2 separate regions of the Homo sapiens genome follow, and region 2 is linked to region 1. The links come from fine-mapping of genetic effects on gene expression. Tissue or cell type: fibroblasts. Region 1 holds a variant in brackets; the other region holds the start of a gene. All regions are shown on one strand. Distances are between the middles of the regions.

Region 1 (8,129 bases):
GCAGTTCAACTTGTCAGTGGCCTCATCAAACAAAGAAGGCAGCTTGTTGTCACCAGCAACCAACATCTGGTTTAGATGTGGCTAGCATGCCTAGTTGCTGTAACAGAGGGGATGTCATAATTAAACTGCAAGTCATGGTGAAGGGTATGGCTGTCATACATTACCACACTTCTGGGATAGAAAACAAGGTCTTGAACTTAGCAGGGAGATGCAGGAATACAGTTATTATGCACTTCTTGAAATTGTCTCATTCCAAAAAACATTTGGTTTTAGGGAAACACTTTGGAGAATTAAAACACATTGAAAAGCTAGAAATAGGTCAAAGTGATTGCAAAACAGTCTTTCAGCATTGTGGTGGGGCACCTACTGGCTTTCGTTGGTCACCCAATCAGAGAGCTTGTCTTTAGACTAATGCTATTCAGCTGGTTACCATGGCAATGATGGAGTACTAGTTGTCATGGCAATGAAATGGAAATTTGGGGGACCAATTTCTTTAGAAGAGGTGGATTCATTAAGCCCTTTCTTTCTTTCTTTCCTTAAAACTTGACCATGTCATACAATACTTTTAAAGGGTGTCCATTTTCATACTCTATACATTTTAGGATCTATAAATCTTTTCTTATTCTTGGATCTCATGTCTTAAGTCTTTTCACCTCTGTGATTTGAGTAGACACCCCCACCCCTACACAGTCTTTTGTGGCTCATATTAAAGAATGACACTGCAAAAGCTACGTTTCTTTTCATCCCCCCAAAAGTGTTTCTGCCAAACTCCATTGGATTCCTCCAAAGTTATTTTGGTATGAAATAGAATAGGTCAGAATAATTATATTGGACTAAATGATAAATGAGACTTCTACCAATGCATTGCAATCACCTGTTCCTCACTGAGGTGTTTATCAGAATTGTACTTTAAGGCAGATCCTTTTGAGAAGCACCAGAAGCCTGGCTCTTTTTCCCTCCCTGGGCTGATGGGGGTTTTATTCCTTTTTGCTTAGAGTCCACTCTGTGGGATCATCAATGGGAAATAGATCTTGTTCACTTGTTACGCAGACTTGAGTGACCTTTTTCTTGACTTCTCCCAAGGAATTAATTTAGCTGCTTATTTTGAGATTCTAGAAAAGAATAAGTGGTTATATATATACGTATATATACATATACGTATGTATACATATGTATACGTATGTGTACATATATACGTATATATATAAGTATATATGTATATATGTGTGTATATGTATACACACACACACACATACATATATATATATATTTGTTGTTGTTGTTTGTTTGTTTTGAGATGGAGTTTTGCTCTTGTCACCCAGGCTGGAGTGCAGTGACGCTATCTCGGCTCACTGCAACCTCCGCCTCTCAGGTTCAAGCGATTCTCCTGCCTCAGCCTCCCGAGTAGCTGGGATTACAGGCGCCCATAACCACGCCCAGCTAATTTTCATATTTTTAGTAGAGATGGAGTTTCACTATGTGGGTCATGCTGGTGTCGAACTCCTGGCCTCAGGTGATCCACCTGCCTTGGCCTCCCAAAGTGCTGGGATTACAGGTGTGAGCCACTGTACCCAGCCATAAGTGGTAATATTATCGGGTTGGCTAAATCTGGGGATTGTTAGAGATTTTAGAGAAAATATATTGGATCAAATCTGAATTCATGGACCTCTAAATTTTTCTGAGATTATTTTTGTTGTATTAACATGAACTCTGGAAAAGACCTTTTGGTATATTTTTATACTGCGAGTTTGCTGCTATAGAATTTTTACAGGATATTTGTGACAGTAATTCTCACATTCTGTAATGAAGGAAAATCCCTTGGGGATTTAGAAGGAACCTCTAAGAGCCTTTCCTATAATCTGTAACCCCTCATTATTATAGATACACTACTTTACATGAAATCCTGCGGGAGGCTCAGTAGACCTTGCTGGGTCGAACACCCCCTGTATCCGAACTCAGGCTCTGTGACCTGAGGGTTCCAATCCTGCATAAGGAGGAGGCTGGGCTTTTGTCTGAGATCCTCCCCCTTTTTACTGCCTATTGCCTCCCTCCGGTGCCTGTGGATTGGCCTGCTGGAGCTATAACAAATTACCACAGGCCAGGTGACTTAGACAGCCGAAATGTATCTTATCTCAGTTCTGGAGCCTTGGAGTTCCAGATGGGAGTGTCAGCAGATCTGGTTTCTCCTGAGGCCTCTCTCCTGGGCTTGTAGATGGTGACCTTTACCCTGAGTCCTCATGTGCCCTTTCCTCTGTGTGCACATATCCCTGGTGTCTCTTATGTTTGTCCAAATTTCCTCTTCTTAAAAGAACACCAGTCAGATTGGATTAGGGCCCACCTTAACAGCATCATTTTAACCTAATCGCCTCTTCAAAGGCCCTGTCTCCAAATACAGTCACATCCTGAGTGCTGGGAGTTAGGGTTTCAACATATATTTTAAGGGGACACACTTCAGCCCATAGCAGACTGCAACACCATATTATTTTCATTGTTGATTGTTTCCAGCAACTCCCTGGCTGGGATCTGAAAGAAATGGTGACAAGCTTCATGAAATCAGACAGAAATACTTCACCATTCTCTGCAGTGTTGGGGCACAGGAGTAGGTAAGGGGTCAGGGGGTGGTAAGGAAGCAATCTCTTGATGTTCCTGGGAGCATAGCTGGGTTTCCTTGGCCTAGTGAGATGGACAACATCAGAAGGGGTTTGTGAGAAGTAAGGTGTTATTAAACGAGGCAAGAAGAGCAGATGGGGTGGGGGTGGGGGGCAGAAATGCCCTTTTTTTTAAAGGCCTCTTCTTGGACTAAGATTTGAGTTCCCTTAAGGATTACAAACTGAAGATTAAGATGCAAGACTGGAATAATTTTCAAATTTACACAAAAGTCTAGATTTGTAGGTTCTCTTAGATGATGTGACAACAGAGCCCATATTCCAGAGCAGAAATAATTTCTTGCTAACCTCCTTGGGCTTTATTAAAATAGCTTCTTTGCTTTCAAAGAAGATATGGCAGATGAGCTTCAGCCAAAGGAAGTGAAGCCAGTGATCACTCTATGAGCCATGCTGGAAGGCCCCAGCAGGAAGTGAAGAGGTGGCCATAAGGTGAGAACTGCTCATCTTGCTTGGGGCAGACTCAGTGTGTTCAGGGCTCCCAACCAACCTATAAGAAATAATCCATCAGAAAGGTGTCCAGCAATGTCCCCTGCAGGGAAGAAAGGGCATGAAGGTACTACCACCAACTGGCTTGCTGTTATAGTTAGGCAATCTTTTTCTTTCCTCCCTCCCTCCTTTCCTCTCTCCCTCCTCCCTTCTTCCTTCAGTCCTCCTTTTTTCCTTTCTCCCTTCATTCTTTCCCTCCTCCCTTCGTCCCATTTTTTCCTTCCTCCCTCCTCCCTCCTCTTTTCCTTCCTCCCTCCCTCCCTCCCTCCCTCCCTCCCTCCCTTCCTTCCTTCCTTCCTTCCTCCCTCCCTCCCTCCCTGCCTGCCTGTCTGCCTGCCTAGAGGTAGTGTTGGGGGTGGTAGATACTGGCTGCTGGGTCTGAGTCCAGGGACAGTGACAGAGGCAGTGATGTCTTCTAATCATTTCTGTGGCATAACCCTGAGTGAGTTCCTAGCTAGGAGACCCTCAAGCCTAATTTTCTGGTCTTCCTGCAGGTTCTCTGAACTACTAAAATAGCTTTAAATAAATTCAGCTTTTGCATAAATTATCCAGAGTCAGTTTATTTTGCTTGCCAAAATGAATGCTGATACTCTTTGTCCTCTGCCCAGACTTACTGGTCACAGACAAGAACCTTGAGATGGCCACAGGTCCCAAATTGTTATCCAAATTTCCAGAGAGACCCAGAGCCTGTCTTAGGGAGCCCCAGATGAGTCAGTCCCCAGATACATTCCATGACTCCTCATGGTAATAGTGTCACTTCCTTGAATGAGGAGCTTGAATGAGGAGGTAGGTGAC[C/T]AACTCTTTCCAGCAGCAAATTATGCCCATTTTTTTTTTGTTCTTTGCAAATGAAACATGCTCAACAAGTTCAAACTAACTTCAATGGAATTTCTAGCTGTCCGTGTCCAAAGTCCCATCAATAGTTGTTCTCTTTTTCTTTAAGTATGAAAGTGTTTACTGGAAAGAAAAAAGAATTTCTCATATTCTGTGCTTTTCTCTTGCACAGAAAAATACAGCACCAACCTTAGATTTAATTAGAGTTAAATTATGACCCAAGCAGGAATAGGGGTCATTCTGAAAATCACAGACTTGGCAGAGACTTTCAGAAATTATTAATGCTGTTCCCCTATCTCTGGATTTAAAAAATTGGATTATGCAAGAAACCTGAGTGTTGGGATTGGGGGTGGGGAATGGAGTTCGAGAGAACCCTGGAAGTGGAGTAGGGAGTGGAGATAGCCAAGAAGCATCCTTTTCTTAGGTTGATTGGGTGTCCATCAGCTCTCCATCCCCAGTGAAGTTCCATCTCTCTCCTCCATACATTAAAATAATGCCTTAGTTTTTCTTTTATTGAAAAATTAGTAAATTTATTATCAATACTAAAAAGCAAACAAAACGGAAAGGAAAAATAGTCACCTGTAATTTCACTACTAGAAGATAATTACTGTTAATAATTTGGTGTCTGTATTAATCTAAACTGTTGCTAGTGACAACTCAAACTACCTTGAGTTAAAGAAAACGGAAATGCATTAGCATATAAAACTGCTAAGTCCAGGGTTATATATAGTTTTAGGCTTATCTGCATTTAAGGGTTCAGTGTCATGGGGGGTTTGCGTGAAGAAGTGAGATGATGTGTTCCCCTTTTTAAAGATTATTGACTTATTTTTGTCTTTAACTGTCTTTCCTGCTCATCAGAGCAGAAGGAATTCTTTCTTAAGTGTAGTATAAACATCCACCCTAAAAGCCTCTTCCCAGCAAAGAGCTGAGAAAGCTGTAGATGCTCATGGGGCTAAAACAAGCAGACTTTTGTGAGGTGCTAAGAGCTAAGTCACAATATAGATCCATAGCATGTACATTTAAAAAAAGAAGAGGAAAGGAAAAGGATGCCCATGTAAACCGTAAACAGTGGAAGTCTAGAACCGTTATGAAGCCTGTCTTGCTTCCAGCTGCATGCAGAAATGTAACATTGATATTTTTATCATTTATTCTCTGGATACCAGATTCCTTAACTCAGAAAGAAGGATACCAAATTCCTTAACTCTTTAACTCAGGGACTTTCTAGTTCATGGGAGTGCTTATCCTGACTCATAATTCTTCATAATTCTTCCTTTTGTTTCTTCCTTTTGTTTCCTATATCCATGCATACATAATTCTTCCTTTTGTTTCCTATATCCATGATATAATGACAAAGGGACAAGTAGAAAATTTACATGTATTAACAAGTTAATATATCTTGCATAGTTTAAAATAACATTACATTTTAAGTCAACTCTCTCTATTGCTTTTTCTAGAATAGCTGTAAATGAGAAAATGATCTCATTTGTTCCACCAGTTGGGCAAACTGACAAATAATTACCACCAAAGATATGCTAAGGAGAAAAGTACTTCCTTCACCTACTAGGCACAATTATGTGATATGTTGCCTGTAGCATCTGTTTTACTGAAATGCTTATTTACTCCTTCTGTGTAATTGTTTGAGCCTCTCAGTCATGTGCCAACATGTTCCTCTGATTCTTTGTGTTAGCGTTGGCAATTTTAGATTCGCTGCTTCGGAGGAAGCTGCTGCTGTGTTTACCCTGCAGGCAGGGATGTTGTCCAGTACTGTGCTTTGGACACAGCTCTCAAAAAGGCCAGCAACTACTCAACTGTTGGTGCTTCTTTGCCATATTCAGCATATCAGTACAGGACCAAGGAGACAACTACTGCATCCCCTGAAGCACTTCGAAGCAAGAAGGAACCTCAAGGCCCATAATATGGGAGGAATGAGAGCCTAAGAGGGAATAGATGGACTTTTGGAAATTTTACTGTGACTAGCAGTTAGAGGTTGGAGCGCAGGCAGTGTAACTCTAGAGTGTAATAAGGATGGTGCGGCCGGGCACAGTGGCTCATGCCTGTAATGCCAGCACTTTGGGAGGCTGAGGTGGGTGGATCACCTGAGGTCAGGAGTTTGAGACTAGCCTGGCCAGTATGGCGAAACCTCGTCTCTACTAAAAATACAAACATTAGCCAGGCGTGGTGGTGCGCACCTGTAATCCCAGCTACTCGGGAGGCTGAGGCAGGAGAATCGCTTGAACCCAGGGGCAGAGGCTGCAGTGAGCTGAGATCGCACCACTGCTATCTCCTGTCTTCACTGTGACCAATATATTTCCAGGTCTAGAACTTCCTGGTAATTATTTTACAGAATTTTTTCTGCTCATCTTGCATTGCCAAGACTCAGTTATCTTCATTCTAAGAATATTTCTCAATTCTAGTAGACTTTTAAAACCATGATCTGCATATGACCTAATATGAATTCTTCTTATTTTTATTTTCAGACGGGGTCTTACTCTATTGCTCAGTCTGGAGTGCAGTGGCACAGTCTCGGCTCACTGTGACCTCTGCCTCCCAGGCTCAAGTCAAACGATCCTCCCACTGAAGTAGCTCCTCCTGAGTAGCTGGGACCACAGGTGTGCACTGCCATGCCCAGCTAATTTTTTATATTTTTGGTAGAGATGGGGTTTTGCCATGTTGCCCAGGCTGGTCTGGAACTCTTGACTTCAAGTGATCTCCCCGCCTTGGCCTCCCAAAGTGTCGGGATTACAGGCATGAGCCACCATGCCTGGCCATGGATTCTTATTTTGAAATTTCCTCTATTCAATGTAAGTTATCCCCAGTTTCCATAAGTTATTTTGAGGGGTACATAAGCAGATATATTGGAACCCCTTCTTCCCTATTTACATCATTGGAGGCATTTGGTTCTCTGGCAATGAGGCTTACTATTTTTTCTTCATCAATACACTCCCATTCTAAACAAGATATATTGTAACTTTTCTTTTTCCAAGTGGAGATTTATGAGCTGTTATGGATGACCATTTTATTTATTTGTTTTGTTTTGGTTGAGTATTTTCTTTATTCAGTGAATATTATTATGTATCTTGTTTCACACCATGCTAAACAAATTTTCCTCATTTCTTTTTTTTTTTTGGAGACGAAGTTTGGCTCTTGTTGCCCAGGCTGGAGTGCAGTGGCATGATCTCAGCTCACCGCAACCTCTGCCTCCTGGGTTCAAGCGATTCTCCAGCCTCAGCCTCCCGAGTAGCTGGGACTACAGGCATGTGCCACCACGCATGGCTAATTTTGTATTTTTAGTAGAGACAGGGTTTCTCCATGTTGGTCAGGCTGGTCTTGAACTCCTGACCTCAGGTGATTCGCCTGCCTCGACCTCCCAAAGTGTTGGGATTATAGCTGTGAGCCACCATGCCTGGCCCTTTTTTTTTTTTTTTTTTTTTGAGATGGAGTCTCGCTCTCTTCCCCAGAGTGCAGTGGTGCGATCTCTGCTCACTGCAACCTCCACCTCCCTGGTTCAAGCCATTCCCCTGCCTCAGCCTCCTGAGTAGCTGGAATTACAGGTGAATACCACCATGCCCAACTAATTTTTTTGTATTTTTAGCAGAGATAGGGTTTCACCATGTTGGCTAGACTGGTCTTGAACTCCTGACCTCAGGCAGTCAGCCCGCCTTGGCCTCCCAAAGTGCTGGGATTGCAGGCATGCGCCACTGCGCCTGGCCAATTTTACTCATTTTTGATCACCTTTATTTTTTCCTTTAAAAATATATTTTTTTTGTTAAAAAAAAAAGAGAGAAACTAGAATACCTCTAAGATGAAACAAAACACTTTCTGCCATGGTTCTGCTTCTAAATGCTAAAGTGATTAAACCAGGTAAAACGAGGATAAGTTCTGGCTGAGTCCTTTCCAAGCCATCATCTCTTTCTTCTTTTAAATTTTAATTTTAAGTTCTGGGGTACATATGCAGGATGTGCAGGTTTGTTATACAGGTAAACGTGTACCATGGTGGTTTGCTGCACCTATCAACCCATCACGAAGGTATTATGCCCAGCATGCATTAGCCATTTTTCCTAAATCTCTCTCTCCTCACCCAAACCCCCTACAGGCCCCAGTGTGTGTTGGTCCCCTCCCTGTGTCCATGTGTTTTCATTTTTCAGC
Region 2 (8,129 bases), 330 kb after region 1:
AGAGTGGTCAAAGAACAACAGATTTTCTTGGCACTCCCTGTACATATTCCATGTAGATAAATATGGTGCTATCTCTAGGAAAATACTACAAATAATAACTGTCAATTCTTAGCAACTAGCAACATGCATTATTAAAAACAAACACAGCCTCTCATCTATAAGTTCCACTTCATAAAACATGTCTTTATGAGTCTTTATTGTTCCCATATGTGTAGCTCCACAATATTTTTGCTGCAGAATACAAGAATTACATAGATCACTAAAGTCCACAGATAATTCAAAACCTTCTGCTAGCCAATTATTCAATCCCTTCCACTGCTACGCTATTTGCCAGAGATGCTAACAAATAGCATAGTCAACTGGTTTGGGTTTCATACACTTTTCCAGACATGCTTGCTTTCTAATGGCCTATTCAAACAAGAGATTTATTTCTCTTAATTCTAAGTCTTTGAGAATTTGACCAAGAGGCATGAAATGTTCAATTCATTCTTTAAAACTGTTGCCTGGGGTCCCCTTTTGTCCCCCATTTAAACCTATCCACTGTTTAACCACTTGTATCATTCCTGATTCTTCTGTCTTACAATTCTGTGCTACATTTCTCTGCATGTGGTTTTGATTACTGTTTTTTCTGTATTCTTTATTGTATTCTATTTTAATTCTCCAAAAACTCAATTTATACACTGTCCATGAACTTATGAAAAAAAAGTGAAAGCAAAAATGATTCTCCACAAAACAGAGCAGCCAACTGAAAACTTTAAAAGCTTGAAAATTTTATGAGGCAATTAATATGAACTGATATGACATCTTCAATTAGATTCAAAGACACTTAGGATTACAAAAATTAGTCAGGCATGGTGGTGCACGCTTGTATTTCCAGCTACTCAGGAGGCTGAGGCATGAGAATCACTTGAAACCGGAAGGCAGAGGCTTCAGAGAGCAGAGATCGTGTCACTGCACTCCAGCTTGGGTGACAGAGTGAGACTCTGTCTCAAAAAGAAAAAAAAAAGACACTTAAGATGAAGAGAATTCCAACTCCTTATCTTATAGATAAGAAAACCGAAACCCAGAGAAAGGCTAAGTGACTTGCCCAAAATGATACACACAACTAGATACATCTATGATCTTATACATAAAATTACGAATTATCACCAGGAATGGTTCTTTTCACAGTTAAGAATAGCCCCATGAAGTCTGTTCCCAAAACCTGTGCAGGCAGCCACAGTGGCAAAATTCCATATCTGGGCCGGGTGCAGTGGCTCATGCCTGTAATCCCAGCACTTTGGGAGGTGGAGGCAGAGGCAGGTGGATCACCTGAGGTCAGGAGTTCGAGACCAGCCTGGCCAACATGTCGAAACCCCATCTCTACTAAAAATACAAAAATTAACTGGGCGTGGTGGTGCGTGTATATAATTCCAACTACTCCAGAGGCTGAGGCAGGAGAATCACTTGAACCCAGGAGGTGGAGGTTGCACTGAGCCGAGACCACGCCACTGCACTCTGGCCTGGGCAGCAGACCGATACTCCTTTTATATATATATATATATAAAATAAAAATTAAAGAATAAAAAAATTCCATATCTGAAGTCATTCCTTTAGGTCAAAACATTATCTCAAAAATTCTGAGATAAATAAAGTTGTTATTAGGGAAAATGGGAGAGAGTAACAGGGGAAAATATTCTAGAGTGTTAGGTTCTAAGTTAGAAGGTAGAAAAAAAAATACATATAATCAAAATGACTCTTGAAATCACCCACACACCTAAGTCACCTATAGAGTCCAATATGTATGTTTATTCATTGTGTTTTTCTTGAGACAGAGTCTCACTCTGTCAGCCAGGCTGGAGTGCAGTGGCGCAATTTCAGCTCACTGCAACTTCTGCCTCCCGGGTTCAAGCAATTCTCCTGACTCAGCCTCCAGGGTAGCTGGGACTACAGGCATGCACCACCATGTCCGGCTAATTTTTGTATTTTTAGTAGGGACAGGGTTTCACCATGTTGGCCAGGCTGGTCTCGGCCTCAAGTGATCCGCCCACCTCGGTCTCCCAAAGTGCTGGGATTACAGGCGTGAGCCACCGTGCCTGGCCTAGACTTATGTCTTAATGAGTCCCACACAGTCAGGTTTTCCTTTAGCAATAGAACAGAATTTTTTTTTATCATCAGATAAAGTTGCTGACTGTAATTTAAAAAGTAGTTTGTTCCAAATACATATACCTTTATTTATTTATTTATTTATTAGACAGAGTCTCACTCTGTCACCCAGACTGGAGTGCAGTGATGTGATTTCGGCTCACTGTAACCTCTGCCTCCTGGGTTCAAGTGGAACCACAGGCACACTGGGACCACAGGTGTGTGCCACCACACCTAGCTAATTTTTGTATTTTTTGGTAAAGATGTGGTTTCTCTACCAAAATGTTGGCCAGGCTGGTCTTGAACCCCTAACCCCAAGTGATCCGCCTGCCTCAGCCTCCTGAAATGCGGAGATTACAGGCATGCACCACTGCACCTGATCCCAAAACACATACCTGTAAATAACAGACTAGCACTCTGCGAGGGTACAGAAAAACCAGTCTTGTCTCCCATGCTGTCCTTACTAAGGGGCCTACTCTCCCTGCATTGGACAGCTGGCCTCATGTACTATTTATCTGTTATTTGTCTCCCACTCTCTTCTTGATTTGCCTAGAAGTACCAGGTGAATTTGTGCCATTTAATGCGTATATGATCTGACTCCATGATATTCCCTTATTCCCATGTTTGTGTATGGATGTAGTGATCTAGGTTAGATACTGGATGTGTAGGTACTGCAGGAGGAGGTAAAGCCTGGACTCAGGGCAGGGCAGGTGCAGTGAAGACTCCTAAAGCAGCCTAGGGACTCGTGGGTGTGTGGAAGGAAGAAGTGTTGAAGGAAATAGGGAGAAGGTCATTCTCTGTGGGACAGACTTAGCTCCAAATGTGATTTTCACCATGTTCATGATTTTTCTTCCGTTTGAATTTGATAGACACATTGCAACACATCCCATTTCGCTGATTTTCAAATAAGGACTTGATCACTGGCAAGTGACCTTACAGCAAACATAAAGAAATCAACATTTGGAAGTGCATTTGCCAATTAGTGCTCTAGGCGGCAGAAAAACCAGACCGCCACCCCTTGAAGACCTGCCACAAAGAGCCATGTGGAAAAACTGCACAGAGAAATGGTGGTTGTGAACAAGAGTACTGCCCTGGAATGAAAGGTTTTAGGCTATGTTGGACTCACTGAAAAAAGAAAGGTTAGTCTCATTAGAAAGTTTACCTGGCTCTAAGAAAATAATTACTTATCTGCTAACACAACTTCCATAGCAATGAAACAAGTTCCTGTAAGTATAAATTATCACAATTCCAAGCAGACAAAAATCTGTGTCTCCTGAACACATTATAGGGGTCAGCCTATAGATAACTCCATTATAGGGGTCCTCCTAAAGATAACCTAAGTTATCTTGCATATTGTGTCTGCAGTGTCCACAATGAGTTGGTCTGTATTCACACTGGATGATACAGGATTTCTCCACCAGGTCCTCTCACAGGACTCCAGGCATTTTTACAACTTGACCACACAAAAGAACACTCAGGCTGCTCCTCCCTTGCTCAAGGGAAGTACAGTAATGCCTCTCTCCGTAGCCCTTTCATAAGACTGTGCATAGATAAACACAGGTGTATACATAGCAATCTTTATGAACTTTGCATTGAATGTGTCAAAGAACAGTGGCGGTCCCAACATTCCATCCATTGTCTCAATCAGGAAAGCTACTCCTGAGACCTCAGGAAAGAGGAGGAAAAAATTCAAGTAACACATATGTTTACGAAACACTTCAGTAACAAAACAAAATACTTGTATTGGAGAGAAAATATATATATTTTTAATCACAAGGCATAGAAAGTAAAAATAATCAGCCTTAATTAGGTTTCCTTCATTAGTTGACAATGTAAATGGACTGAAACTACTACTCAAATATTCAAACCTTCATTTTACATGCAAGTGGCTTCCAGAAAATGATAAAGCAATATTCCCATGTGAGTGTGAAAGATGGCAATGAATTCTGGCCCATTATAAAGGAAGAGTCAGATTCCACTAGTCACTGCTTCGTTTAACTGCCAGGCTTTTAGGGAGCTATTTAATAAAAGGGGTCTCGCCCTAATAAATTGTGAGCGGTGTAAATAGGTGAGTGGTGTAAATATCTGAAATAGCCTGCACTCAATGAGGCTGTAGACCGCTTGGGGTTCACAGACTTTACAAAAATCATTCCGTAAAAAAATTACGTAGTGACAATCCTACCATTTAAAAAGAATAATGATGGTGATAATAATAGCTGGACAGGATCCTCCACTGCTGCCTGCTTCCCACATAAGTTGCCCAGCTGAAGGTGGTTAAGTTAAAGCCAGTTCTCTCCCCATTAGAGATGCGGGCTGGCAGCTGGCGGGGGAAGTCACCCAGTTTCCAGCTCCCCGTGGGTTTGACGGGACTGGGATTGCAACTGGGAACTAACTGGCTTGTAGGAAGCCCAGGTGGCTCAGACAGGGCTCGAGCTGTCCCCTCACCACCTTCCTCCCACGCAGACACCAAGTTAGATACGCAACTCCACGAGCACAATGACAAGAAGGCACACAAAAGGAGCAAGGCAGCCGCTCCCATCCTTACCTTTGACTTGACTTTCATACTCGGCTATGATCTCTTTGTCCTTCTTGAATCGGCTCGGGGTGGACATTATCCAGCTGTTCCGGGTTTGCTTTCAATGGGCAAGTTTTGTTCAGTGGTCACAACCCGTTCTCCTTGGAGAGGCAGAGTTGTACTCCCACACGCAGGCAATCCAGAGGCAGCGCCGACCCGAGGGAAGGGAGGAGGGAGAGGAGAAGTAGGAGGAGGAGGGGAAAAAGAGCGAGTAGAGAGGACTAGATTAGCCCGGGCGCTGGCACCATACTCTCGAAATTGAGCTCCGTCGGTAATCCCAGGGGATCCCCGGGGGAGAGGCCGGACGCGCAGGCAAACTCCAGCCAGCGAGTGGCGGGGGACGTCTCCCTGCCCACCTCGCCGGGAGCCCGGCCACTTCCTCTACGGCCGCTGGGCGGGCGCGGGGCTCGCGCCGGCGCTCCGCACCATTGTTCGAGACCCGCACCGGGCGCCCGGGACAGGGCCAGCGGCGGAGGGCAGGCGCTGGGAACGCGCCCAGCTCGGGCGCCACAACCCTCCCTTCCTGCCTCCAGCTGTCGGCTCCGGCGCTCAAGGGTCCCGCCCGGGCTGGGGATGCTGCTGCCACGGCCGCCGCTCCTCTGCCCGCAGACACTGCCGCTACAGCTCGGCAGGCGAAAGGAATCGCAGTCCTGACGCGAGTCCCCGCTGCTGCTGAGAGGGTGAAGGCGGCGACGCTCAGACGCGCCCTGGGCACAGCCCCGGCGGAGTTTAGGTCTCCAGAGCCGGCGCCGCGAGGGGCCTCTGCCTCCCTGGCCGCGGTGCGCCGAGGCTGCCTTTCTCTGCGTCCCCCTTTCCGCTGCTGCCCCCAGGAGGCCGCTAGTGACAGGCACACTCGCACACGCACGCGGGAGCCGCGCCCCCGGCGGCAGCAAAGTTGAGGGTGCGCACACGGCTCGCGCCTCGCGGGCGCCCGGCTAGCGATCTGCGGGCGGTGGCTCCTCGGGGCTCCGCCAGGCGGGGCCAGGCTCGCGGGAGCGGACCGCGCTCCGGCCTGTGCCCTTCTCCGTCCAAGCTCCCGCCCCTGCTCCGCTAGGAAACGCCTGGCTGGTCCGGGAAGATGGATGCCTCTTGTGGCCAACCGCAGCCCGGCCCCGCGCGCCGAGCCCAGGAGGCCGTGGGCGGCGCCCCCGGCACCTCCCTCCGCCGAGGCCCCGCACCTCCCTCCGCCGAAGCCCCGCTCCACCGCTAGCCGAGGTCGCGGCTCCGGCGGCAGGAAAACCCCTTCCTGACCTGAGGGACCGCCTTCTGGCTCTGGCGGGGGCTCTGGTGGGGCTTTTGCCAGAATCTAATGGGGAAGTCCAGAGTTGGATGTATCCATGACACAAAGGGATGTTACTCCGAGACGCTGGACCCCAATAGAAAAACTGAACACTGAATTGTGAATGACCTGGCTGTTAATCCAAAGAGCGCGAAGCTCTTCAATCGAGGCGGAGAAAAACACCCACCTTGAACACCATATCCTCTATTCCTACAGTAGATAGGGAAGCTAGGATGGTAGGAAAGCGATGGTATGGAAACACGTCACACTTAACGGCGTTGTTAGCTTATTTATTTACTAAACTCCAGATTTTATTCCAATTTTACCAATTTTTTCGACTAGTGTCATTTTTTCTGTTCCAAGATCCAACACAGGACACTACATTGCACTTAGTACTTTTACGGTTGTTTTTGTTTTTGTTTTTTGATTTTGTTTTTTGGGGGTTTTTTTTGAGACGGGGTCTCACTCTCGCCCAGGCTGGAGTGCAGGGGCACGAGCTCCGCTCACTGCAACCTCCGCCTCCCGGGTTCAAGTGATTCTCCTGGCTCAGCCTCCAGAGTAGGTGTGACTACAGGCGCCCGCCACCGTGCCTGGGTAATTTTTGTATCTTTAGTAGAAACAGGGTTTTGCCATGTTGGTCAGGCTGGTCTTGAACTCCTGACCTCAAGTGATCCGCTCACCTCGGCCTCCCAAAGTGGTAGGATTACAGGTGTGAGCCACGGCGCCCGGCCACGTTTTTAATAGATACCTTTTACAAGATCTATCGTGTCTAGTCTCTTTTTATTTTATTTGTTTGTTTGTTTTCATTTTAGTACAGACGGGGGTCTCCCTATGTTGTCCAGGCTGGTCTCAAACTCTAGTCTCTTTTTGAACAATATAACGAAGAATTTACCTTGCCATCTTTGCATGGTTCAGGTGTTGTGTTAAGTACTTTAAATCCATCCTTGCCAGCCTTTTAAATTTTTTTTTATTATTTTTACTTTTTTGTAGAGATGAAGCCTTGCTCTATGGCCCAGGCTGGTCTCAAACTCCTGGCCTCAAAAGATTCTGGCTGGGCACGGTGGTTTACACCAGTAATCCCAGCACTTTGGGAGGCCGAGGTGGGCAGATCACAAGGTCAAGAGTCCGAGACCAGCCTGGCCAACATGGTGAAACCCCATCTCTACTAAAAATATAAAACTTAGCCGGGCATGGTGGCATGTGCCTATAATCCCAGCTACTCAGGAGGCGGAGGCAGGAGAATCGCTTGAACCCAGGAGGTGGAGGTTGCAGTGAGCCAAGATTGCACCACTGCACTCCAGCCTGGGCGACAGAGGGAGACTCCTTCTCAAAAAAAAAAAAAAAAAAAAAAAAGAAAATCCTCCGACCTCAGCCTCCCAAAGCACTGGGATTACAAGCATCAGCCACCACACCTGGTTCTGTTAGCCTTTTTGACTCACACCACTTGAGATATTTACTGACTCCTTTCAAATCAATTCTCAAATATTATGGGCCTGATTTATCAAAATGATGTGTCCAAAGGTGTATCCCCTCAAGTGTTTTCCCCACAAGATCTAAAGAAAGTAGGGACTTTTAGACTTTGATCATTCTTTCATGTATCCAGTGATCGGCTCTCCAGTTCTTAACTCTGTGCCAAACACCACGCTAGGAACTAGGGATTCAAAGATTAAGACTGCCGGAAAGGATCATGCAGTCTATTACTGTATAAATAAATAATTACAAGCAGTACAATAATGCTGTAAGAGATAGAAATACTCCCAGTCTTGGGAGCACTGGGGATGGAAAAACAGACTGCATAAGAGGATTGGGTGTAAGAGTTCGCAGAGGAGTGGTTTTGAGCTGGATTTAAAGGATGAATAGTAAGTAGCTGGCAACTTTAGGGAGGAAAAGGGATGCATTCCAGGGAAAAGGAAGAGTGTTATACTCTAGAGGAATTGCAAATAGAGTGACAAGATATCTTCCACTAAGATACCAGATCTCTGCTAGATGGTGAAAAATAATGTAAAAAATTGTAATATATGTATATGCATGTGTCAGCTGATAGTATGTGGGTATGTGGACATTGTTAATTGCACTGCTTTTTTAAAATCTAATTTTAGCAAGTTTTTTTTACTTTATAGCAACAGAATATATGTAAAGAAAATATGCCAA

The links. PIP is the estimated chance that this variant, and not a neighbour inherited with it, causes the effect.
Region 2: SRGAP1 starts here. The variant in region 1 is fine-mapped to the expression of SRGAP1 in fibroblasts (GTEx, PIP above 0.99).

The regions. Positions count from the first base shown.
Region 1 is chr12:64,167,719-64,175,847 of GRCh38, reverse strand. No RefSeq gene overlaps it. Among named protein-coding and RNA genes, the nearest start is that of KICS2, 51 kb to the left of the region's middle. The variant C/T (reference allele first, on the strand shown) is at 3,948.
Region 2 is chr12:63,841,424-63,849,552 of GRCh38, reverse strand. It overlaps SRGAP1 (SLIT-ROBO Rho GTPase activating protein 1), which reads right to left and starts at 4,853. Exons shown (of 22, transcript NM_020762.4): 1 at 4,670-4,853. The coding sequence starts at 4,736. RefSeq lists silencers at 5,011-5,270, 5,381-5,440, 5,501-5,920 and enhancers at 4,847-5,346, 5,347-5,848.